Linked DNA regions of Homo sapiens. The protein of the gene in region 3 interacts with the protein of the main gene of each other region in a biochemical or structural test. Each region holds a gene or a part of one and is shown on either strand. Other genes may lie near its edges.

The links.
Region 1: of the proteins of RUNX1 (region 3) and HIPK2, one has a biochemical effect on the other in vitro, tested with the Homo sapiens proteins (one study listed by BioGRID and IntAct).
Region 2: the proteins of RUNX1 (region 3) and SPEN interact in a test that uses a peptide from one of them, tested with the Homo sapiens proteins (one study listed by BioGRID).
Region 4: the proteins of RUNX1 (region 3) and RNF38 form a complex in vitro, tested with the Homo sapiens proteins (one study listed by BioGRID).

Annotation. Positions count from the first base shown.
Region 1 is NC_000007.14:139,774,989-139,782,929, forward strand, and holds the start of HIPK2 (homeodomain-interacting protein kinase 2), read right to left. Parts: upstream 3,011-7,941; 5' UTR 2,636-3,010; coding exon 2,617-2,635; intron 1,160-2,616; exon of another isoform or gene 1-1,159.
Region 2 is NC_000001.11:15,934,681-15,940,960, forward strand, and holds the end of SPEN (msx2-interacting protein), read left to right. Parts: coding exon 1-1,586; intron 1,587-2,482; coding exon 2,483-2,965; intron 2,966-3,131; coding exon 3,132-3,326; intron 3,327-4,037; coding exon 4,038-4,196; intron 4,197-4,615; coding exon 4,616-4,747; 3' UTR 4,748-5,776; downstream 5,777-6,280. UniProt on the Homo sapiens protein: May serve as a nuclear matrix platform that organizes and integrates transcriptional responses. In osteoblasts, supports transcription activation: synergizes with RUNX2 to enhance FGFR2-mediated activation of the osteocalcin FGF-responsive element (OCFRE).
Region 3 is NC_000021.9:35,039,280-35,046,309, forward strand, and holds part of RUNX1 (runt-related transcription factor 1), read right to left. Parts: intron 148-7,030; exon of another isoform or gene 1-147.
Region 4 is NC_000009.12:36,335,871-36,341,270, forward strand, and holds the end of RNF38 (E3 ubiquitin-protein ligase RNF38), read right to left. Parts: intron 3,945-5,400; coding exon 3,882-3,944; 3' UTR 530-3,881; downstream 1-529. UniProt on the Homo sapiens protein: Acts as an E3 ubiquitin-protein ligase able to ubiquitinate p53/TP53 which promotes its relocalization to discrete foci associated with PML nuclear bodies. Exhibits preference for UBE2D2 as a E2 enzyme.

The DNA.
Region 1 (7,941 bases), on a different chromosome or scaffold from region 3:
TTTCTGTCTAAATCTCTGGCGGTTCAGAACGCTCCATTAATGTATCTGGGCCTTCACCTGGTATTCCAACTTGGTGCAGCAGCACCCCATTGAAACAATTCCCTCTCGTGTCGTTATACTTTTCCTGAGAAGAATCATGCACACTCTTTAGGAGCTCAAAACCCACAAGGAATCCCTCTTCTTATAGAAATCTACAGGAAAAGCTCTGCTCGTTTAGCATGCACACAGGGAGTCCATGTGCTCTGATTGAGACAGGGGAAAAATCAGGTTTCCTGAACCCAGAGGATGTCACCACGGCAGGAGAAAGGAGGTCATCAGAGTCTTGGCACACTCATCACAGTGAGTGAATGCGGGTCCTAGCAACCTAATCCTTGATTCTAGAAGTCACCTGTCTGTTTTAGAGCATGTCCAACAATCTCTTTCAAAAACACCCAGATCTGGGCTTTTGGCAGACTGATGTGGGCCAGTTGAGGTGGGATGGGGAGGAAGATTAGAAAAATAATTATAAAGGTGCACAGATAAACATCCGGAATAAAAGGGTGCACAGCGCAGGAACAATGAAGAGGGCACACGGACAAGATGGAGGGAAACTGAGGGCTGAAAGAGGCCACCGCGGAGGTCACCTGAGACAGGGAAGGAAGGCTGGCAAATAAAAACAGTTCATGAGACTTTTGAGATCCATGATTATTCTTAAACCGTAACACCCTACACACCTGCAGTTCTTTATCTGGCGTAAGGAACTGGAAGAACAATGTAGCAGGAACGGGGAGAGCCAAGTCTCAGCCTCGGGGGCATGGCCTACCTTCCATATGGATTTAAAATGAAAGGAGCAGGAGGAGAACAGTGCAGTTCCCAAGATGGCTTTCCACAAAGTTGACAAAATACACCCCAACTCACATACCCGGTCCCTAGTAACAGGGAAACCAGCCGTTTACTATAGTTCTGAATTCAATGCCAAGTTCCTTCTCTCAACTCACCGGGAGTGTCCAGCAGAGGGAGTCTCAAGGAGGTACTTAATAAAGAGAAAATTGTTTCATTTTAACACTCTAGACAGTGGGAGCATTGACTGTAGCCCCCTCCTGTAGACGCAGATGAACAATGAACGCCCGACATGGGTTCTCCCGCATGTTCACATGTCCACCGGCATGTTCTATTCTGCGTGGTGGAGTGATCAGAAATTTCGTTTTGTTTTGTCGAATGGTTAAATGGACCTTGTGTTCTTCAGAATCAAAGAGGAAAGCCCCTGGAATAACATCTCTCTGTTGCCTTCTAAACAGCCCCTTTGTTTCTAAGAGAGTCTGAAAAAAAAATATTTACAGTCTATAGGTTATTTACAGCCTCGTTATCCAGGGCCTGACTGGTAACTTTATTCCGGCCAGAAACCTAATTCATTTGGAGCCCTGAAACTAATAACAGATTTTCTTTTAAGTTTTTTTTTTTTTAATCAGCCTCTTATAACAGAGATAAAACTATTAATGCCTTCCCTGTCTCACTGGCCACAACTGTTCTCCGGATTTACAGGAGGATTACATTCCCCCCTCGTGCCCTCCTCTGTGCCACACAAACCCTGTCCCCTCTCATTTGCGATTTCATCCACAGAATATCTGAACAAAACCGAAAGAAAGCCGGGGGACCCACGCTAAAAGTATGTGAAGGCTGCGATTTCAATGATTTCATGAGACAAACATTTACACGATGAAACGACTGAAAAATCAGACACACTTGGGTTTAAAATTTCTCCTACTACAAGCACACAAAAACACATCGAAGTGTAAAAACTTAGTTGATTCTGGGTTGCTTTCTGGCTGGAAGCTGACAGAACGGACTGAAGAGAAACGAAAGACAGTGTGCGAGGCAGACCTACTGCTTTTCTGCCTTGCGTTCTTTTCTTTCTTGCTAAAGGCAGTCAAATGGGGAAAAATACCCCGATGCCAGGTGAAGGTGCACAACACAGATCGACCCAGACCGAGCCAGAAAAACGTCTCCGCCGCTCCCCCGGCTGGAAAACCCAAAGTCCACGTCCCCTTCCACACGCTAATGAGGGGAGATTTTCGCCTATTTCATTGTTCTGCCTGGCTCTGACATGGACTTTTCATCTCTCTCCTCTCTCCCCACCTAGCCCCGTGCATTCCGATTCCACAGCCCCCCCAAAATCGGAGGCTCGCGGAGAATAAAGGAGCGTGGGGTGGGCGCGGAAAGAAATGGGAAGGGGCGCGGGGCGGAGAGCGAAGTGGAAAGGAGGTGCTCCGAAAGGTAATGTGGGGGGGCGGTGGAAGCTAAGCCGCATCACCTTCATTTATCGCAAATAAATAAAAAGCACAGTCACCGGTCCGCCTTCCCCGGCGTCCCTGCCCTCCCCGGGCAGCCGCCCACCCTCGCACACGCCCCCTCCCCTCCTGCGCCCCCGGCCCCTCTCCCCGCCCTGGAAGCAAGACCCTGCCGGCGCCGGGTCCCGGTCATCTTCCGGGCGAGGGAGGGGGTCGCGGCCCCCTCGGGCCCCGGGTGGGGGCTGGGGCAGGCGCCGGGGGCTGCGGGCGCGGGGCCGCGGGCAGAACAAAGCTGCGGGGGCCGCGGAGGGCGGCGGGCGCGGGGTCGGCGGGGCCGGGCGCCCCTTACCTTCGTACACGGGGGCCATCGGGGCCGGGGTGTCCGCGGTTCATGGCAACGGGGACGGGAAAGCGGCGCGCGAGCTCGGCCCCCCCAGCCTCAGTCGGAATCTGCCATCTTGAGCCTGTGTCTCCGCTCTCGGCGCAGCCGAGGCCGCCCGCGCCCGCATCACCGCCTCCCGTGGCCGGCGCCGGGGGAGGGGGCCGGGCGCGCCGCCGCCGCCGCCGCCGCCGCTGCCGCCCGGGCCCGGCGCGGGGGGCTCGGGGCTCGGGGCTCGGGGCGGCCGGGCGGGCGGAGCGGCCGAGGCCGAGGCGCCGAGCGGCCGCGGCCCCCGAGCGGATCCGCGGAGGGGCGGGAGCCGGGGGCAGCGCGCGGCCAGGGCCGGCGGGGCTCAGCTCAGCATGGCTGGGCGCGGGGGCTCCGCAAAAGTTGCTGGCGGAGGGGGGCGGCGGGCGGGGGCGGGGGCGGGGCGCGGGGCCGGGAGAGCCACAGGGAGTCCGCGCGCAATCGAGCGCCGATGGCACGGATGCGAGGCGGGGAAGGCCGAACCGAAGGGCAGAGCCGCGCCGGCGGCCCGAGGGGACCGCGCTGGGAGGGGCTGCCGCGCAGCGCGGGGGGACTGGGCGCAGGGCGGGCCCCGGGTAGTGGGTGAGAGGGCCGGCCTGGACCCGGCGGGCGCACGGCTCCGAGCCCAGCGCAGCCGAGCCGGTCTGCAGAGGGGCCCCCAGAACTTTGTGTGTGTGTGTGCACGCGCGCGCGTGTGTGCCCAGGTGCGAGGGTTCGCGCGTGTGCTGGCGGGGAGGGAACCGACCCGAAAGAGAGCCCCACGCTGGCAAAGTGGCTCGCCCATCTCACAGCCGGTTGGCGCTCGCGGAGGTAGGAGTGGAATGAATGAATGAAGGAGTGGGCGCGCGCCGTGCTCCGGAGGAGGGCGGGTGAGTGGAGGAGCTTCGGAAAGCCACACGAGGTCAGAGGCACCGAAGCCCTGCCGTGCACGCCGCGGAAATGCAGCCCCCGGGGTGGTCGCTGGGTTCCTGCCGGAGTCTGGCTTCCACGCCACCCTGATCTTCTCCTCCTCGCGTCTACACTGTCCCGAGGGCCGCCACTCCATCACTTGAATGGGAGCTCACAACTCTCTGGGTCCTCGCTTTTCTCAGCGCTCTCTCCTATCAGGGCTTCCGCTAAACACTCTCCAGACTCTCCCCAGCCGGGAGCCTCTCCAGGTTTGCTTCTCCAGCTGCCTCCCGGATGCTTGGATAGGATGCCCTGCCATCCCCTCCAACTTAGGAAGACTTGTTGAGTCTCCTCTTAGGCACTGTTTTTAAAACTGTGGGTCGTGACACAGTAATAGATCATAAAATAAATGCAGCGGAAGGCAACCAGCTTTCAAAAAGAACGAAATGGAATCCAATAGAAAATATTAGAGTCCATTGCCCTTAGTAAGGGCAACTATTGTTTCATAAACCTTTTGTTTCGATTATAGGTACTGGACAAGTGTACTGGACCATGATGTCAATTTTATTTCCGTCTGTGAATCGTGGGTTTAAAAAAGTTGAAAAGCTATCTGTGTAAAATAATGATCTCTAACACTGTATAACTTTCTTAAAAACAACCTCGTGATTTTCTCACTACTTCTTATCCTTTCCGGTCTCCATCCTCCGTTCCCATCCTTCAGTCCTTCCCAAAAAAGGCAAGCTCTTTCACACTTTTTTAGTGGTACATCACGACACCTTCCTCTGTGTGATCTTGTACTCTGCGGTCTTCCTTGCCCCCATAATCAATGCTACACTTCCTATCCCTTCTCTTAACCTAATGCCATTCACGTTTGCAGAATCCTAGACTACTGTTGCTAAAAGGACCTCAGAGGTCATCTGGGCCAGCCCTGCCCTTTTAGAGTTGAAGAAATGGAGTCCAGAGAAGTAAAATCTGTTGCCCAATGTCACACAGTATTGAAGCTTAGGAATAGGTCTCGTGGCTCCCACTCTAGTGTTTTTTGCTCCACACCGGTCATTTATCTCCTTCCCTTCTATCCTCCCTGCAATCTTTAACTTTAGTCTTGGCCCAGGTCATCCTAAATATTGCCATCTTCATAATACGTGGTTCTGGCCATGCCACGCTCCTGGCTAACATCCTCTAAGGACTCAACCTCTGCAGGTGGGGCTGAGTGCCTTGGCTTTTCATCAAGGCAGGCGAGTCCTGACTTAGCTTTCTAAGGACATGAGTTCAGCAAGTCACTGCTTCTCTAGCCAAACTGGTTTACTTGTAGCCCAGTGCCAGCTTCACCCATCTCTGTCACTGTGCCTTTGCCCAAGCGGTCACTTTCCCACCCACTTTCCCAGAGGGGTACCTTCTCCATCTTCTCTCTTTAAGCAGATTCTACCTGTGCCTGGCTCACCTCCTCCACAAAACAGCCCGAGATAGCGTGGGAGTAAGTCAGACCTAGGTTCAAATCCTAGCTCTTCCACTTAACTATGTGATCTTGGTCAAAATGCTTAACCTCTCTGAGCCTCAGTGTCTGTATTTTGATTATGAGAAGGAGAACAATAGTAATGTTCTCCTTTTGCATCTGTAAATCTCTATCATAGCCTTCACCACACAGGTATGTAACTCCCTGTTAATACATACCCTACATGCATGTCTCTCTGCCCCTTTCTAGTGCTGGCCATTAGAACTTGCTGCCATAATGGCAGTGTAGCTACTTATGTCTGTGGAGCACATGAAATGTGGCTAGTATGACTGAGGAACTGAATTTTTAATTTTAATAACCATGGGTGGTTAGTGGCTACCATTTTGGACAAGGTGTCTCTAGACTGTAAGCTCAGTAAGGACAGAAACCATGTTTTTCTTGTTTTGGATTGTATGTCCAATAACTGCATTGCCTAACGCATGGTGAGTACTGCACACATATTTGTTGAATGGATGATAGCTGCAATTTGTTGCATGCTCCCTTGTGTCCAGCACAACACTACAAACTCGATAAAAGGCATTTCATATAGTCCTCATCACAGCCTCTGAGGCTGGGTTAGATTAGAGAGAGAGTTTTATATAGAGGGCAGACACATAGTAGGGGTTCAATAAAAGTTATTATTATTCTAACTCCTCCCTCTGACCAGCCCCACTGACTTTTGTCTCATCTTTCCTTAGGCTCACAGAACATTTCCTGCCTGTTGCTCACACTCTGTTGTCCACAGCATACCCGCACCCTAGATGGCTGACTCTTGTCTTCTGTGTAGGTACCCTGTGTTCATAACTGGATTGGCAGCGTCTTGGAGCAAGGCCCTGCTTTATAGGACTGCCCCTGAATTCAGCACTGACCAGTGTTCAGTAACTGCCTCTAAGTCCATCCCAGCTGCTGTCTAGCAGTGAGTGATTCTAGGCAGTCTTAAAATGAATATCACTTGTGTCAACCGAAAACATTTTACAGGTAGTCTCCTCCCCATAAGAAGGGAACAATCTTGGGCAAGGAAATAGAGTCCCATGGAAGGGGAACAAGATGGAGCCATACAGACAGAGGTCCACCTTCTCTTCAGACCACCATGACTGAAGCTGTATCCATGAGATGCAAAACATGCATTCAATTGAGCTAGCGAAGTTCGTATGATATAACGGAAAAATATTCTTGAAATGAGCTTAGATTTTCCTTCATGAATTGGCAGACTGAGTATACTAATTGTCTCCTTTCCTTCCGGTGACTGCAGTCAAGTGGCAGCAAGGTATAAACCTAACAGTGAAATGTCACTGAAGGAGAGCATGGGAGCTGGGAGGAGAGAGGATCTGTGACAGAACCTGGGGAGTACCAGTATTTGAGACATGGGAAGAGGAAAAAGAGCTCCCCATGGACAAGAGGGCAGAGAAGTTGGAGGACAGCCAGGACGGGGGATTCCTCAACATCCCAGCAAGGTCAACAGTGCTGCATGCTATTGAGAGGCCCACGTCAGATGAAAGCAGAAAAGCAGCTGGGTGCTGTGGCTCACGCCTGTAATCCCAGCACTTTGGGAGGCTGAGGCAGGCAGATCACCTGAGGTCAAGAGTTTGAGACCAGCCTGGCCAACATGATGAAACTCCATCTCTACTAAAAACACAAAAAAAATTAGCCAGACGTGGCGGTGGGCACCTGTAATCCCAGCTACTTGGGAGGCTGAGATAGGATAATCGCTTGAACCCAGGAGGCAGAGGTTGCAGTGAGCCGAGTTCTAGTGCCATTGCACTCTAGCCTAGGCAACAAGAGCTAAATTCCATCTCAAAAAAAAAAAAAAAAAAAAAAAGGCAGAAAGGCATCAATTGGATTTAGCAACAAGAGTTGCATTAGTGACTTTGGTGAAACTAGTTTGGAGGGAAATACAGGTTTCTTAAATTCTACCTGAATATGTGTCCTGTTTTATGGGTGGAGATAGTAGAAGGATGGGGAGGGCTAAGGAGGTACCAGAAAAGAGCACCAGAGATTGCTCCAAGCAGAGAGGGCCTTACCAGTCATGGGCCTGAGACAATGAGAGGGGTCTGGGAGCTGTCCCATTTGGCTAGAGATAGTGTGCATTGTATTTTATTTATTTAATAAGCACATTAGCAGTCAGTGTTCTAAGGAGTTTAATCAATCATTTAAAAAAATCACTTTTTTTTTTTTTTAACAGTACATGGAACTCTAGGTTGCCAAAATACCATTTAACTTCAGGGTGCATTGAAGAACAATAATAAAGGCAAGAAAACTGGAAAGGATTTAGTAACCATTTATACCAGTTACCTCTCCTTAATTTGCCTTTCTACAAAATGGTGCAAGTCATATCTTTCTCAGGAGTTGGTAGAGTGAACATGGGGGAGCTTTGACCTCATTTCAAGTTCATTTTGCTTACAGGACATGGAACAAAGGGTCTTTTTTTTTTCATGTATGCCTATAGTTGTGAAACTGCACAACATCACAATATCTTCAAGGCCACAGGATAGAGATAACCCTCTTTTTGGTGTATGCATTTAGGTGTGTATGTCTCTCTTACTCTCAGGGTATTCTTAGCATGATGTCTGTGTGGCTTGTATCTTATTCTCACTTGGTGTGTGTTGCTCTTATTTTCCTGACAGCTCTTTATTTTCCATGTGTGAGCCTGTGCCTGTGGTTTATCTCTGGAGGATGTGCCTGAGGGAGGTAGGTCACTATCTCAAGTTCTGTCTTTTGATATCACACCTCTCTTTTGGTCTCTTGCTGTATCTCTATTTTCCTCTCTTTCTGACTGTGTGTCTAATTTTCTTTTTCTCTGTATCTTTCTATCTTTTCCACACATTCTTTATTTCTTCTTCCTCTCCCTTTATTTTAATTCTGTTTCTTAACAAGTCATAATAGAGACC
Region 2 (6,280 bases), on a different chromosome or scaffold from region 3:
TTGTGCTCCTGAGTTACTCAGGGCAGAAGACCGAAGGCCCACAGCGGATCAGCGCCAAGATCAGCCAGATCCCCCCGGCCAGTGCAATGGACATTGAATTTCAGCAGTCAGTGTCCAAGTCCCAGGTCAAACCTGATTCTGTCACAGCATCGCAGCCTCCATCCAAAGGCCCTCAAGCTCCTGCAGGCTATGCGAACGTGGCCACCCATTCCACGTTGGTACTGACCGCCCAGACATATAATGCCTCTCCTGTGATTTCGTCTGTGAAGGCCGATAGGCCATCCTTGGAGAAGCCCGAGCCCATTCACCTCTCGGTGTCCACGCCTGTCACCCAGGGAGGCACAGTGAAGGTTCTCACCCAGGGGATCAACACACCCCCTGTGCTGGTTCACAACCAGCTGGTCCTCACCCCAAGCATTGTCACCACAAACAAGAAGCTTGCTGACCCCGTCACCCTTAAAATCGAGACCAAGGTCCTTCAGCCGGCCAACCTGGGGTCCACGCTCACGCCCCACCACCCTCCTGCTCTGCCCAGCAAACTGCCTACAGAAGTCAACCATGTCCCCTCGGGGCCCAGCATCCCAGCAGATCGAACTGTCTCCCATTTGGCAGCTGCAAAGCTAGATGCTCATTCTCCTCGACCAAGTGGACCCGGGCCATCCTCATTCCCAAGGGCAAGCCACCCCAGCAGTACTGCATCTACGGCGCTCTCCACCAACGCCACAGTCATGCTGGCTGCAGGCATCCCAGTGCCCCAGTTCATCTCCAGCATCCACCCAGAGCAGTCTGTCATCATGCCACCCCACAGCATCACCCAGACTGTGTCCCTGAGCCACCTCTCCCAGGGCGAGGTGAGAATGAACACTCCCACGCTGCCCAGTATCACCTACAGCATCCGGCCAGAAGCGCTTCACTCTCCTCGGGCTCCGCTGCAGCCCCAGCAAATAGAGGTCAGGGCCCCACAGCGTGCCAGCACCCCGCAGCCAGCCCCAGCTGGTGTGCCTGCACTGGCCTCCCAGCACCCTCCCGAGGAGGAAGTGCATTATCACCTTCCTGTCGCTCGAGCCACAGCCCCTGTGCAGTCAGAGGTACTAGTCATGCAGTCTGAGTACCGACTGCACCCCTATACTGTGCCACGGGATGTGAGGATCATGGTGCATCCACATGTGACGGCAGTCAGCGAGCAGCCCAGGGCCGCGGATGGGGTGGTGAAGGTGCCACCAGCCAGCAAGGCCCCTCAGCAGCCAGGGAAGGAAGCTGCCAAGACACCAGATGCCAAAGCTGCCCCCACCCCCACCCCTGCCCCCGTCCCTGTCCCTGTCCCCCTTCCTGCCCCTGCTCCTGCCCCTCATGGTGAGGCCCGTATCCTCACAGTTACCCCCAGTAACCAACTCCAGGGGCTGCCTCTGACCCCTCCTGTGGTGGTGACCCATGGGGTGCAGATTGTGCACTCCAGCGGGGAGCTGTTTCAAGAGTACCGGTACGGCGACATCCGCACCTACCACCCCCCGGCCCAGCTCACACACACTCAGTTTCCCGCCGCTTCCTCTGTTGGCCTGCCTTCCCGGACCAAGACAGCTGCTCAGGTGAGCCAGCCAGGTATCTCCCCACTGTCTGTTGGGCATGTGCTTGTGGGGCTCAGCAGGCTTTTAAGCCAAGATGTGTGAAAGAAATCAGGGGCCAGGTGTGGTGGCTTATGCCTGTAATCCCAGCACTGTGGGAGGCCCAGATGGGAGGACTGCTTAAGCCCGGGAGTTCGAGACCAGCCTGGGCAACATGGCAAAACCCCATCTCGTACAAAAAAAAAAAATTACAAAAATTAGCCAGGTGTGGTGGCACACACCTGTGGTTTCAGCTACCTGGGAGGCTGAGGTGGGAAAATTGCTTGAGCCCTGGAGGCAGAGGTTGCATTGAACCAAGGTCGTGCCACTAGGCTCCAGTGACAGAGCGAGACCCAGTCTCAAAAAAAAAAAAAGCCGGGCATAGTGGCTCACGCCTGTAATCCCAACACTTTGGGAGGCCAGGGCTGGCAGATCACTTGAGGTCAGGAGTTCAAGACCAGCTTGGCCAACATGGTGAAACTCTGTCCCTACTTAAAGAAAAAGAAATCCGCCTTTTGGTAAAGATAGTGGTTGAGTACAAGTGAACTGGTCAGCTAGTCCCTAAAGATGTTGATCTTTTCATGAGTTTAAAGAGCTTTCTTAGTTCTGAGATGAAAGTATTAGATCACATCATGGGGAGTTCTGCATATGGGGAGGGAGCTCTTGCTGGGTAGCATCAGCAGGAGGCAGGTAATAGGGGATCTCTCCTTACCTGGAACCCCGAAAGCAGCTCCGTTGATTCAGGCTCCTTCTGTGGGCCTGACTTAACGGGAGATGCCACATCTTATCCTTTCCCTGTGGCCCTTTGGGTCATTTGTTGGTCTCAGGGGCTTGTGCACAACAGACTGACTCTGTCCCTTTGCCTTCCTTCCCTACACCAGGGCCCTCCTCCTGAAGGTGAGCCCCTGCAGCCTCCTCAGCCTGTGCAGTCCACACAGCCTGCCCAGCCTGCACCACCCTGCCCGCCCTCCCAGCTCGGTCAGCCCGGCCAGCCACCAAGCAGCAAGATGCCTCAAGTGTCCCAGGAGGCAAAGGGGACCCAGACGGGAGTAGAGCAGCCTCGCCTCCCAGCTGGACCTGCAAACAGGCCACCTGAGCCTCACACCCAGGTTCAGAGGGCACAAGCAGAAACAGGCCCGACTTCCTTCCCCTCCCCTGTGTCTGTCTCCATGAAGCCTGACCTTCCAGTCTCTCTTCCCACTCAGACTGCCCCAAAACAGCCGTTGTTTGTCCCAACAACCTCTGGCCCCAGCACCCCACCAGGACTGGTTCTGCCACACACTGAATTCCAGCCAGCCCCCAAACAAGATTCCTCTCCACACCTGACTTCCCAGAGACCCGTGGATATGGTTCAACTTCTGAAGGTAAGCATGAGCAGGGGCTGCCCTTCCTGGCCCCCAAGTTTTATGCCATGTCAAATGTCCTAAGATTCCCTAGTTAACAGACCCACAAGCTACAGCCTCTGGCTGTGTCCAGCATGGCTCAGCGAGGGGCCATGAGCTCACTTCCTGTTTGTTTCCCTGTGAGCAGAAGTACCCCATCGTGTGGCAGGGCCTGCTGGCCCTCAAGAATGACACAGCTGCTGTGCAGCTCCACTTCGTCTCTGGCAACAACGTCCTGGCCCATCGGTCCCTGCCCCTTTCTGAAGGAGGGCCCCCACTAAGGATCGCCCAGAGGATGCGGCTGGAGGCAACGCAGCTGGAAGGGGTTGCCCGAAGGATGACGGTAAGACTCTCAGGCCCAGGTGAGCAACTGCCCCACCTACAGGGAGGAAGACGTAGGTAGTCCCTGCCAGCCCATCTCCCTGGCCTGTCATGGAAGCATTAACTGTATTCTTGTTGTTGTTGAAACAGTCTCTGTCGCCTGGGCTGGAGTGCAGCGGTGCGATCTCTGTTCATTATAGCCTCTGCCTCCCGGGTTCAAGCCATTCTCTTGCCTCAGCCTCCTGAGTAGCTGGGATTATAGGCACGCACCACCATGGCACCACCATGCCCAGCTAATTTTTTGTATTTTTAGTAGAGATGGGGTTTCACCATGTTGGCCAGGCCAGCCTTGAACTCCTGACCTCAAGTGATCTGGCTGCCTTGGCCTCCCAAAGTGCTGGGATTACAGGCCTGAGCCACTGTGCCTGGCCAGTAACGGTATTCTTGAAGTGAGCAATGAAGGGTCCACTATGCTTCTACTTGGTGGGGGGATGTAAAGTACCTCTAGACCCAGAAACAAGGCTTTACAGTTTTTAAAAATTATTATTTTTTAAATCAGCTTTCTCAGGTTGAAAAAAAGCTTTTTTTTTTTTTTTTTTTCATTCAAATATCAGGGTAGCCTTTAAAGTCATCTCAGAGGTGGGGGTTTTTGTGGACCTGATACTGTGGGTTGGATGTGGGCTGCTGTTTGACTAGGAGGCCCCTGCTCACTGGCAGCTGGCCTCTGCCTCAGGTGGAGACAGATTACTGTCTGCTGCTGGCTCTGCCCTGTGGCCGTGACCAAGAGGATGTTGTGAGCCAGACCGAGTCCCTCAAGGCTGCCTTCATCACTTACCTGCAGGCCAAGCAGGCGGCAGGGATCATCAACGTTCCCAACCCTGGCTCCAATCAGGTCGGTTGTCCTGTGTCCTTCCTTCACATGTACACCCACAGGTGGGGCTGATCAGGGTAGGTGGGCCTACTCATCTGGTGCCCACTAGATCTGGCCCCAGAGGTGGGCAAAGGGGCATTTTGGACAGAAGTCAGTAGAGCACATGGGGCGGGGCGCCATCACCCATCCTGAAGAGAACCCAGGGAACCGCTGAGAACACAGGTTTTCCATGAGTTTAAAGATAGGGCCCCAGGGGGTTCCTGTTTATAGTTTTCTGACACCTGCTAGGTCTTCCAGTAGACATAGTCCTGGCACATTTGCTGGTTGGGGACTGATTTGGCCTGGCTCTTAGCATTGGGCCTCTTCAGGGCTCCCCAATGGAAGTGGAGTTGTGGGGGTGAAGACAGACGGTCCCACTTTGCTCTCTATCCTGTCTCCAGCCTGCCTACGTGCTGCAGATCTTCCCGCCCTGTGAGTTCTCTGAGAGTCACCTGTCCCGCCTGGCCCCTGACCTCCTTGCCAGCATCTCCAACATCTCTCCCCACCTCATGATTGTCATTGCCTCCGTGTGAGCCACTGAGTGGTTATCACCTCAGTGAATCTTCCCAGGGCTCTGCAGTAAAAACAAAGGACAACCCAGCCAAGCAGAGGAAGAAGCTGCCGAAGGGGACAGACTCCACTGCCAGACGGCCAGCCGTTTGCTGTCCTGCCGCCCGGCTCAGTCGGCCAGACTTCCTCTAGGAGTGGTGCTGCTACCTTGTATGTTTACATAATGCTTTAGCCCAAGGACACATCACCAACCCATGGACTCGCAGACACCGGGGCTGGGTTTCTCTTTCCTCTTTTTGGAGAAAAGGAACAGGGCAGTGGAATGAAAATTTTTTGTTTGTTTGTTTTTAAGAAACAAGAAAACAGAACTGCCTTTGCACTAAATTAGTGACTTGGACTTTTGCCCAGTGAAGACAGGCTGTGACACTCTGGATGTCTTGGTGTGTGTAGACACACATTGCAGACTCTTAACGCAGGAAGGACTTCAAACTTCTGCTGAGACCTTGGGGTCAAGGAACATTTCATTGGTTTTTTTTGTCCACCCCCATCTCCCTTGCTCATTTGGATGCGTCACCTTAATTCTCCTGCTGCCACCGTCTTTGATTCACCGGGATGTACAGTTTACAGTTGAAGAGCAAACAGAAAGGTTTTCTCTTGGTGGGATATGCAGAACTTGGGATGTGTGTATATATAAATATATAATATATATAAATATATATAATACTGACTTAAAAAATCAAATCCCCCGACATACGTTTTTTTTAATCTGTGCCAAAAATGTGTTTTCAGAGGAAATCTTATTTTCATATTCAGACTTTGTATTGCCCACTCATTTGTATAAGTGCGCTTCGGTACAGCACGGGTCCTGCTCCCGCGATGTGGAAGTGTCACACGGCACCTGTACAAAAAGACTGGCTAACCCCTCTTCCTATTACCTTGATCTCTTCCCCCAACTTCCTAACACTTATTAATTTATGAAACTGTTTTTCTCAGCGCAGTTTTGTTTTGTGTGTCCATTGGATTACAAACTTTATTAAAAAATATAAAACACACCAAGTGTGAGTGTGATTGTCACTTGGGTGGGAGGACGAACCATGGGTCCTTGGCTTATGGGAACAGTCAGCCCTCATCCCGCTTTTGATCCCCATGCCAAGTCTGTACATGGGAACTGTTTCCCTTCTGCCTCCTAGTCAGTCAGTCCTCCTCCCCAAGGATAATTTTATCTTGTACAAAGGAGATTTTTGTCACGGACACTGAACTTAACCATTTCTCACTCTTGTGGTGTCTTCAGAGTCCTAACTGGTTCTTAGGTAATGTGGAAGGAAGGCACTTCCAATTTTGATACAGAATATAACCACACCCCATGCCATCTCAGAAACATTTTAGCAAGCTTTGGTTTCTTGTCTCTCTCTTGCCCCCTCTTCCCTTCTCCCAGTGTGAAGCAGGCTGACTCCTGCAGAGGCAGTGGCCTCCTGGGGCCCCTGGGGGCTCATTTGATCCCGTCTCTGCCTCCAGACAGGAGAATGGGAGTTGGGGACAGGCTTCCCCTGCAGCTG
Region 3 (7,030 bases):
CTGAGAAGACCTGGTTTCTCGTTCGGACTCTGGCACCAACCAGCTATGGAACCCTGGGCAAGTGAACCTCTCTGGTGCCCTAAGGTAGAGAAATGTCTAAAAATCACTCCAGCCAAATATTCGGCTCTTCCTTTCTAGCAGTTTAAAAATATTTATAATTATAGATTTTAAAAAATAAAGTTATATAATTTTTAGATGCCAACTGAAACTATACAGAACTATATATATACATAACTCTATATAACTCTATGACACAGCACATAAAACTTACAAAGCATCATATAGAACAATGTCTCATAGTTCATATGTCTCAGGGTTCACTTATTTTTTAAACAGATTTATTCACATCTGTAATACAATTATTTCTTTGTTTTGAATACAACCTGGAGGGAAGCATATGGGAGACACAGCCTTTATTTAAAAAAATGAAGTAATGATATGGAATGATTGACAGTTGGATAGAATTTTCATTGTCGGCACTTCTACTTCTTTATATGACCCTGCACCTTTCACAGTGCTAATATTTGTTTAAGGTTGCTTAACGTTGTTCCTCTCCTCTAGAACTTTGGAAGTAAAAGCCATTCTCATCTTTAGAAACAGTAGATTCAATAATAATAAATAATAATAAACTAGAAGCCTGAGTTTCTGTTCCTACCTGTCAGTCAATGCCTAAATAATTTCATTTTCACCCATTCACCCATTCATTACATGAAAGGGGCTGGGATAAGAGAGAACACTCCTGAAGGGGAGGACTACTTTTTCTCCTCCTTTTAGTTCCTACCCACTCTTGCATGGGTTTTATACACATATGTGGTTTCAGATTTTATGAATTCTATACTTTCAAAGTGGGTGAATGTCAAGTTCAGCTGTGACTGTTACCGAGCTGGATGAAGCTGCCCAGATGCAGCCTGCAGATGGTGTGGAATGAGGGGCTCAGTGCACAGAGTTCAAAGTGCAAACAGAAGCTGTGTAAGAAAGTGCAGCAAACTGTGGTTGGTGTTAAAACTGCTCCTGAAAAAAATGGCACTCAAACCAATGTATCTTAGTTGACCTAAACTCTCTTTTGCACATTCTGGGGCAGTAATAAGAAACAAACATTGATAGCTATACATATTATAAAATTTTGCACAGTAAAAGGGGAAGTGCTTCTCTCTTGAGCAATGAGTGCCACTCTGACATTTTTTGTCTCCCTTAAAAAACTCACCTAGGATGGGCCGGGTGCAGTGGCTCATACCTGTAATCCCAGCATTTTGGGAGGCTGAGGCGGGCAGATCACGAGGTCGGGAGATCGAAACCATCCTGGCCAACATGGTGAAAACCTGTCTCTACTAAAAATACAAAAATTAGCCGGGCGTGGTGGCACACACCTGTAATCCCAGCTACTCAGGAGGCTGAGGCAGGAGAATGGCTGAACGTGGGAGGCGGAGATTGCAGTGAGCTGAGATGGGGCCACTGCACTCCAGCCTGGTGACAGAGCTAGTAGACTCCATCCAAAAAAAAAAAAAAAAAAAAAAACCAACAACAAAAACTCACCCACAATGGAATGTGACTATGGAATACCCTGCGGTGTGTTCAGAGCTCTGACTTCTGTTTGCTCTTTTTAACATAACCCCCATCTGGCAAGCTGACTGCTGCAAGATTTTCTGGGTCTTTCTTTAGGATCTACTAACAATGAAAAACATATATATGAAAACCTACACATTTTCAGAAGCACATGAGAGCTGATCAAGACCCACGTACCTCCCAAGGAGAGGAGATGACAGAGGCTGCTCTGTGGTGTTGCTCTCAGGCTATATTTGATTTATTGCTCAAATCTTATTATTTCATTCTCCATTCGAGACTAGCAAAGTTTCTTTTGAGAAGTCACAGTCTCTACGGAGGGTATTCTAACGCCCAGAAGTAAAAGTTGGATGTTGGCAAAGAAAGCAAAGTAGAATCTTTGCAAAATGTTGGAGCTGCATAGTTCTCTCTCCCAATGGACATGTTTCAAGACTGAATACGTTGAGTATTTGATTTAGAATCAATTTAACATGAACTTCGCATTTATGCAAAGCAGCATCAGTCCTGAGATCAGCAGAGCGATTGAGCAAGCCCAACTAGCAAACTGAGATTTCTATTTGTGATGACCTTTCCCATTTGAGGCCCCAAAAATGTCTTGGGGAACTCATTGTTTAAAAAGAAGTCCATCAAAAAATGGACACATATGGACCATGGCATGGGAGGGCAGTGCTGCATACAAAATCAACAATTCTCTAAATGAACACCGATCTTGCAGAAAAACAAAATGAAAGCAAAACAAAAAGAAATTTCTAATTTCAAGAGAAAAACTGAATAACAACTTTCTTTTCATTCATCCTTTCTTTCTTCTTTTTCTTTCTTTCTTTTTTTTTTTTTTTTTAACGAAGCAATGACTTTCTCAGGGAGAAAGATTTGCATCCATGCTGAGGAAATAGACAGGGCCAGTAATCACACAGCAACAATCATCTGTAACTTGCAGAAATTCAATGTATGAATAAGTGTTTAAAGCCTAGATAGAGGGCAATTATCTGGTTATCTGTTTTTCATATTTCTATCAGAGATAAAAACCTCTTTAGGGAAATTTATGAAGGGCCATTTGAAAGAAGGTTTCCCTCTTTTGTAGAAAAGAATTCTCTTAAAAATTAAAACAAATTTGGGAGGCTGGGGGATTTTTGAGAGTTTAAAAGAGTGAGGAAGATGGGGGGCGGGAAGCAACTATTTCCAGCTGCGAGAAACCGATCAACCTCACAGCAAGGTGTGGTGGCTCTGATGCAAGCAACATTCCCATAGATACAGGGCTGTCTGGTTTTCTATTGCTCATTCTAACTTGAGGAGACGCTCAAGTGTGATTTGGGGCTTTGACACTGAAAATAGGTGTGAACTTGGATCCATTTAACCTAGCCCCTTCCCCCACCTCATCCCTTCTCCTGTCCAGTTTGCTTTCAATGGGTCAACAATAAATATTCACCCTTGGCATCCATCTGCAACTTCCAAGAGGGAATGAAGGAAGAACATAAAGTTTCTCTGCATTTGTTTCCAAAGCCCAGCTGGCACAGAAAACAAATGATACAAGATATGACTGGGAAGGCACACAGCCTGTCTTTGTCACCAGGTCTGGCAGATGTGGCTCTGGGTTCACGAGACATCTGCTCCCAGCTACCTTCCTCTCTGCTTCCCTCCACTCTCCAGGCTGGAAAGTGACAACTCCATTGTCCTCAGTTCCCTCCAGCCAGAGGCCTGTGACCTAGTTGTGGCCTAAGCAATATGTCAGCGAAAGTTTGCAGAGAAGGGCTTCCCTTCCTGAATAAAAATACCAGGACCCACAAGAAGGGGTTGAGGCCTCCCATGTCCTTTCTGCCTGGACAGATCAGAGGTGCAGGCCATCTCTCCCTGGCCTCAGCATGGTGGGACCAAAACATAGGAGTGTCCTGCACCCCACCGTATCAGCCTGGACTGCTCACTCTGGAACTCCTGCCCGTCTGCTCAAGCCACTGTGGTCAGCTTTTCTCTACGTGCAGCCAAACATAATTTTCATGGGTAAACCTGAGCAAGGGCCTTACTCTTTCTGTCACTGCAATAAAATACATAATTTCCGTCATGTTTCGGATTTAGTGTTTATTCCTCCACCTTGGCTCCTTTCTGGCATCATTACTCAGTGTTATTGCAAGATGAGGGAGGGAGAGAAAGAGAGAGATTCAGAGAGCCAAGAGAGTATAACACGTGTCTCCCCAACAAAGAGTGAAGCCTGCGCAAGTGAGAGCAGTGTGTCTGAGCTTATCCTCCCAGCATGTTGAAGGTGACAGGAGGTTTTGAGCCCTGTTTTGTGTTCAAGAGCCAGCCTGTGTTCTCGTAAAGTACTCCCTGATTGTGTTCACGGTCAGCAAAGATCTCAAAGGAAATGCTCCCTTTTTACCACTCCAGGACATCCTAGTTATTATATTTTATGAGAGGGAAGAGGTCAAGAAAGACATACCTCTTTGCCTTGGCTGGAGGCTCAGCAAAAAGGCTAAAGAAGGGGACTGGTGGCATCTGATGGGGAGGAGCAGGGGAGGCCGAGAAACAAGAGTTGTGGGAAAAGTGCTTTGAACATTTTAATATCTGTTCAGGCACCAGTGTAGCTTCTGAAGATTTCTTGAAAAATGGGAGTTGGAGAAAGCAATTACGAAAATGAGGGAAAATATCTTGCATTTGTGAAATGATGGGAGAACTATTTTCTAAACAGAAAATAAAATATTTTTAAGTGGCTTTGTGTTATTAAGCTAAGAAGATTTGTGATGTGTTTTATGGTACCTCTTTCTGATGCATGTAAAGACTTCCAACAGGAACTTGGTAATTTAGATGCAAGCTTGTCTAGAATATTATTAGCCCATTTTGCAGAACTCAAATGAGACACAAAGACATCTATTGACTCATCTAGGTCACTAGGAAGTTACCTGAGAAACTGAAAATTTGCTTGAGTTTCCTGTGTGGGCCTCCTCTGCTGCCTCCAACAAGACAAGCCATCAAAGCTACCTTCATGTCTGGGCTTTGACAAAGTACATGATTACAAATGTTCCCAAGGAGCAGGGAAAATGGGAGTCTCTCAGAGGCCCAGAGAACCTGCTCAAAGGTATACAGGCAAAATGGCCTTTTCCTTAAGAAGAGCCTTGGAGAAAATAAAGCTACACCAGCAGTCTCAATGAAAAGAGACATCTCTGTTGTCCTTGTGTGTTCAGATCAAAGACTTAGCATGACATCCTGCCCCAACTAGCCTCCATATTTAAAATCAAAACTTGTTAAGTTGAATTTCATAAAGGGCTCTCGTTCTTTTTCCACAAGGGAAGGAAGGCTGACCTGCTGGTGAAAAGCCCTTAGGGTGGACTGAGTTACCCACTGCTGTCCATGCCCATGTGGGATCCTGCAGCTCTAACTTTGCCCAGGCTGTACTCTCGGCCTAGACCACTCTTCCTTCTTTCCTTTGTTCCCAACTTCCCCTCCCCCAACTCCTGTGTCCCTCTCTCCAGGGAGCCTCCTGTAATGTCCTCCAGGGCATTGTGACCTCTCCCTCCCTAGAGCAGACAGCGGTTGACTGGCTGCCTTCTTAGATAACTGAACATTGATAGCCACCATTCAGATTTATTGCTTACTTTATATGGCTGGGCAAAGCACCTTACACAGATTAATTCGGTCCACACAGCTACCTTAATAACAGGTACTATTGCAATCCTTACTCTGCAGATGAGGAAACTAAGGCTCAAGAGAGAAGTTCTATATGCTATTTGATGAAAGCCAGAAAAAAGAAAAGAAAGAAAAGGCCATCACTGTGTCATCTGAGCACATTCCCTGCACAGACCTCCTGCCATTGCTTTCTCTAATAGCAGGTGCTCTTATGCCTCCAGACTCTTCTCTCTAGGCCTTGGGCTCCTTATTAAAGTCTGTGTGTGCACAGCGGCTGTGCAGCCGTCCTCTGTCCCAGCATCTCACCAGGCTTGATTTCTCAGTAAAGGGCTACATATTTTCTGAGCACATCTTTCGGATCTATTTTGAGAGAATGTAGGAACGTCTCAGCTACTCATTTGCTTTCAAAAGCTCAGAAAGGCTTCTTGCCATTCAGAATCGGGTCAGTTGCTGTTTCCAAAGGTGCTTCTGCTACTGGTTGCTCCATGCCCCTGTACTCGGTGTGTGAGCAGCTGTGGGGCCTCCTACAGCCCCCTAAACCCCACTAATAAAGTCAGTCTGAAGTACAAAGACAATCCTCCCCAAGAAAGCAGAGCCAAGAGGAGGTTTCTTTGGGGCGGCTGCCATTTGCTCTTTTAACACTTAAACATTTCAAAATTACTCGTCATTTTCTACAGTTTCTTAGCGTGCAAAAAGTCTAAATGGCAAAGGCATGATTGTGAGTTTAGATAGTTTTATCACACCTTTTTTTTTTATAGTTTCAAAATGTGTGGGCAGTTTCAGATGTGAAACTCCATCTCACAAAGGAGGAACTACAGTCTGATTCTTTAACATCCAAGAGAGCAGCCAGGATGCCCCATCCCACAGTTTCCTTGTGGGCCAGGGTGGGTCAGATTTGCTAAGACCCACTGTTAGGGACTGCAGTATGTCTCCCTAGAATTAATACATTGAAGTCCTAACCCCAAGGTGCTCATAATTTGACACTATTTGGACATAGGGTTTTAAAATGACGTCATTAGGCTAGCCCCAATACAATGCAATTGGTATCCTTATAAGAAGAGATTAGGATACAGACACACACAGAGGGATAACCATGTGATGAAACAGGGAGAAGGGAGCTGTCTGCAAAACCAAGGAGAGAGGCCTCACCAGAAATCAGCCTTGCCGACACCTTGATCTCACACCTCCAGTCTCCCTCCAGAACTGTGTGAAAATAAATTTCTGTGGCTTAAGCCTGAAGTCTTAAGATCTTAAGTGTTCAGTCAAGCCAGAAGAAGTGTCTTAATAAATATTCTTCTGAAAAGAGCGGCAAGCCGATGCTTAGAGAAGAACATACTTTATACATGCAGCTTTGTACTTGGCAATTCCCTTTGAAAGACTGCTTCAGTGGGGTAAACTTGAACCGCTGAGAAGACAAGCAGGGAGTCGGTCTCGCTGAGATTTTTACCTGTGGTTCTAGGAACGCAGAGGCATGTGAGTGTTCAGGCTTTGCATAGACCACTAAGCCACTTCTAAGAACAAGGCTACCTGAGCCATTTTGCAAAAATATGTACGTGCCGAGGCTTTTCCTCCCCACACCTACCTCAACTCTTTCTGCCGACACACTGCACTTTTCAAGGGAACCCAAGTTTGGGTTCGGCAAGAATTGTACGTTGCACACCGTGTGTGATAATTCCAGGGAATTTCAATCGCATCTTGTCTTCCTTCCTAAGCAAATTCGGTGGGAACCTGGTGTGGTGTGATAGAAAAAGCCCCGAGTTCTCTGTGGTAGACCACATCAATTTCATGTGCCAGTCTCTCAGACTCCGGCTTGCCTCTCTCAAGGAAGGGAACAATGGTTTGCTTGGCTTCACTC
Region 4 (5,400 bases), on a different chromosome or scaffold from region 3:
CCTTTATAAAAATATAAATATGGCCGGGCGCGGTGGCTCACGCCTATAATCCCAGCACTTTGGGAGGCTGAGGTGGGTGGATCACGAGGTCAGGAGTTCAAGACCAGCCTGGCCAAAATGGTGAAACCCTGTCTCTACTAAAAATACAAAAATTAGCCAGGCACAGTGGCGGGATCCCAGCTACTTGGGAGACTGAGGCAGGAGAATCGCTTGAACCAGGGCTGCAGAGGTTACAGTGAGCTGAGATTGAGCACCCCAGCATGGGTGACAGAGTGAGATTCTGTCTCAAAAAAAAAAAAAAAAAAAAATATATATATATATATATATATAAAATATATAAATATGTACCATATGTTACAACGCTAGTTACTTTTGCATTTCTAAGTTGTTTACACAAATGCAGAAATACAGAATCTGGCAGCCAGTAATTCAACCCAGCTCTATCTTCCTGCTGCTATCTATCTCTCCATCCCCATGCATATACAACCCTTCCCCATCCCTAACACAGTGACATGAAACACAACAGATGTTTTAAGTGTACATCATACATTTATTACCAACAACCCTCTCAACTCCAAAATTGGGCACAGGGATTAAAAATAAAAATTCATTGCACTACTTAGTAAAGCATTACTAGTAACTTTCATAAAAAATGTACAAACTTTGTTAAAAATTTATCAAGCCTTCAAATGATTTGGTTACAGATATTTATAATACATACATTTAAAACTATATGTTAACTGATACAATGGAATATGATTTGAGAAAATGACTCAGCAAATGATTCCAAAAAACACCCCTGTGAGCTTTCACAATCTGAAACGGCAAAATGAGGTAACCAAATGTACCAACAGGGGGACAAACAAACAGCTTTCTAATGAAAAGGCCCAAAGATAATCTGTGAAAAATATTCTCACAAGTGAGTCGGTAGATCTCATTCAAAATTATTCTAAGAGGCCCAAATTTAAGAATCTTAACAAATCACATTTCAGATAGTATATAAAATCTAAATATGCTTTCACATTTTCCAGATTTTGCTCAAAAAATTAAGGACAGAAAATCCTAATATGAGATCTTGATACCTGGAGGCCTTATTTTTTTGAGGGGCTGGGGGTTAAAAAAACACCAAAGATGACAATTCATGCCAAAAAACAAACAAGAACCCACAAAAAACCCACAGCTGAGTTAAGATGGTAAAGCCAATATTATTTTAGGAGGAAAGAGGACGAAGGCCAATGAACCAACATCTGCCTGCTATCTGGTGCATCACCCAAGGTGACCAATGGCTGGGCACAAATAAACTTCTCTTTTGCTAGCCACAGAGTTGCTCACTGTGGCAAGCCTGAGCTGGTCAGAACACCTGTGTGTGTGTTCCTGATACACACTAACCACAATAAGCAAGTCTGCACACATCTCTATGAGCCCCATGCAAAGACAAGACATTCCCAAAGATCAGTCACTAGAGTGCAACAACGAAATTCAAGATTTGACCAAAACAGACCCTGCTGCCTCCTAAATTGCCAATTGCCTCTCAAAAACTTACAGAAAAAGGGACATTATAAGAATTCATAGAGGGAGAGAAGAAAAAGCTGCTACTCCTAGTCATTAGTACAATGTGCTGTGTTAATTAGATACCTCTATATAAATTAGAAAAAGTGCTTTACTTGCATGCTTCAATAAAATGAATACTGAGTGTCGTAGTGTTAGATCTGTACAGATATAAATTTTTTGCAGCTATATAAAAGTGTATAAGATGGGCTTTTGCCATTTTAAACATGATTTTTTTTCATTAAAAAAGATTAAACTATATGTGATTTGTATGTAGCTGATTATTATGCCAAGAATTTTGGTCTTTAACACACTTTTTATTCATCAGGAACAGGTGAGGGATATCCTAATGATTTAAAAGTAACATGTGCATTAACCATGTGCATTTTTACCACTATTTAGAAGTATTTCTGATGCACTGACAACCCTAGGGGCAAACACAGTATGCAAAACCCTACTTGTAGGACTAGATAGAGGCAACAATGTCTCGCAAAGGGCAAAATTGTGCTTCTGTGAATTGACTTTACTTAACTCTAGGCTGTGATGAGCTTATAGACACTTCAAGGGAGGGCAAGCAGCATGGCAGTAACAAGTAGTTAACACTGAATGGAAAACTGACACAGAGCCAACTGAAAGTTGAGTGGGGCTGGCAGCAAGTTATCACAGTCCTGACTGGAATAATGCAGCTTGTGCTATTGCAAACAAAGCAATTACATCAACTGCAGGAAGAGGCAGACAATGTTGAATACACTAAAAGAATGAGAAAGTAATTTAAACATTGCTGGAAAAATGACTTTAAAGTGAATTATGCTCAAAGAACTTACTAAAAAAAACCCCATACAGCTATGTATTACATCAACTAAATGAAGGTCAACTCCTGTTTAACAGCATTATTTTTTTATACAAAAACCAAATCTTCATTTATACTGCAAGTATTCTGGACACCTGTTGTATTAAACTTTTCTCATTCAAACAAAAATTAAAAGGAAAGGCAGTAAAATATCAAAACAAATCAGGTCTAAGGAACATGAGCTGTAACAGCACTTGATCCATCCTGAAACCAGGGTTTCGATGAGAAGCACGTGTGATGAAGGAAGAACTAGACAACTTTCAGAATTGGAGTCTGGCAAGTGAATTAATATGAACAGAAATAGAGTTTTCTTAAAACAATTGAGTTGCCCACAGGAGCTTGAACACAGAACACATATGAGAAGTCAAGCTGAATTAACAGGTTTTGTTCTGGTGGAAGTCAACAAGGTGAGACTTCATGGGACTAGTGGTCTTCTTAGAAATATATTAATCAAATATCTTCAGAATAGACTAGACTACAAATCTAAACATTAAAAAAAATCACAGGTACTTTCTGTAAGAAACTTACTGGAAATGTAAAGGAAAAAAAAGTATCAACATTCAAATCACTGATTGAAATGCTAATATTGCTAACTGATGATATATGATATTGCACCTTCTTTTTGGAAACAGCAAGTTGGAGATTTAAAAATTTCCACAACAGAATAAAAAAAAACCAGGTTCATGGAGCGAGAATTTGTTACACTTTTTTTTCTTAAGTGACCCACTTAGGACCACCAATAAAGAGAAGGTGACAGCTGCCTGAAGCAAAGGAAGAAGGCTTTTCTCATTCCATTCACTGGGAGGGAAGGGGATGGAGTATTCAATGCTTGTAATTGATGCACCCTCAGCAATCAGTGTGCAACAGCAAACACAAGGGAAAAAAACCAGTGTACAGTACTAGTGCTGTTTAAATAACACACCAGATTATACATTGCAGCATAATTAAAACTACACACACATTCTTGGTACATGCTGGTATATAGGATCTCATACACACGTTAGCTACCATGCCCTCACACAAGTAGTTGCACACACTCACACAGATACACTTATCACCAACAGTCATACGCTGCGCATTCATTTCCACTCACAGTTTCTGAAGGCTCTATATAAGGTAGATTGCTATATCATCTGTAGCTACCACTTTTTATAAAAGCACATGCTAAAAGATCACGTCCACTGTAATCTTGCAGCAACACTCGGAATGATCACACAAAAACCAGGGAATGTTAGTGCACACACAAAATTAAGCTAAAGAAAAAGTCTTTGGAGTTCCAATCACACGGTTAGTATAACAATCCCATAACTGTGAAGACTAATTGTAAGCTTTTATAGTTGATTAAGTCACACAGTGCAAAGAAAGGTCCATTGACCCTTTTGGTAAAGGGAGGGCTGGAAGCCACACAGATTAAGTTCAATGGATAGTCCGTATATACATGTGATGAGGAACACCCAAACTAAATTTGTGCTTCTTAGGTTGGTCATTCTGAATCCCGATGCACTTCTGAAGCATCAGCTCGGCAAATTGGGCAAGTACGATTTGCCTACAAAACAAAAAGGAAAACTTGTTTAAATTGTGACACATACAATGAAACACATTCAAAGCAATGGAACTACTTTTACTTCCCACAGTTTTTACATTCTTTCTTCCTCTGAAGAGGTACAAAGCAATTTTTGCCTTTTTTTAACCCATAAACCTCCGAATTAGCCCAGGAATTTTTTTTTTGAGATGGAGTTTCGCTCTTGTTGCCCAGGCTGGAGTGCAATGGCACGATCTCAACTCACTGCAACCACTGCCTCCTGGGTTCAAGCGATTCTCCCGTCTCAGCCTCCCGAGCAGCTGAGATTACAGGTGCCCACCACCATGCCTGGCTAATTTTTGTATTTTAGTAGAGACGGGGTTTCACCATGTTGGTCAGGCTGGTCTCAAACTCCTGACCTCGGGTGATCCACCCACCATGGCCTCCCAAGGTGCTGGGATTACAGGCGTGAGCCACTGCGCCTGGCCGCCATGAATGATTTTTAGTAGGTCTGTTAAAATATATAAACAAGATTACCATTGACCAGTTTGGACCAAGTTAACAACTGACATTAAAGTAAAAGCTTGGTTAGTCTTTTTTTCCCCCGTTTTTTGAGACAGGGTTAAACCCTGTTGCCCACAGGAGCACAGTGGCATGACTACAGCTCACTACAGACTTGAACTCCTGGGCCTAAGTGATCCTCCTGCTTCAGCTTCCTGAAAACCTAGGATTAACAGGTGTGTGCCACCACACCCAACCAATTTAAAAGACGGGTTTCACTAAGTTGCCCAGGCTGGTCTCAAACTCCAGGCCTCAAATGATCCTCCTGCCTTTGCCTCCCAAAATGTTGGGATTACATGCCTGAGTCACCATTCCTGGCCCCTTGGCTATTCTTAATGGAATGAAGTCACAGAAAACATTTAGTGGTACCGAGGAAAGCTTGATTGTAAAATAGGTGACTGACTCTATACTGATAGCTCTACTTACTCACCTGTTCCCTGGCTCCTAAATTTGCTTTCTCCATTTCAACAAATGGGACCATAATTTGTGGAGTTGCTAATGCCAGACACATAAGCATCACCTGCTCTCCTACTTCCTACAACCCCATTATTCAGCACATAATCTTATTTCTGCATTACAGTAATTCTCAAATCAGTCCCTCTTTTCATCTAGTTGCTACTATCCATTCTCTGGCCCACCATGTCTTTATTCTATCTCCCTGTCTCTCAGAAATTACCTCTTTTATTAGAACAGTGGCCAGAAATCCTTCTATAAAACAGTCTGTTATATACTTCCCAAATGCTTTCAGGATCACACTAAACTCCTTTACGCTTCAGAGTGGCTTCACAACAAGCCGCTCATTGATTTTATCTCTGAACACCTTTTCTTTTCCCACTCTTCCTCACATTCCAACTATCAGCCACACGGAACTTGTGGTTTTCTGATTCTCTGTCCGCACGTGTCAGGGATTTACACATAT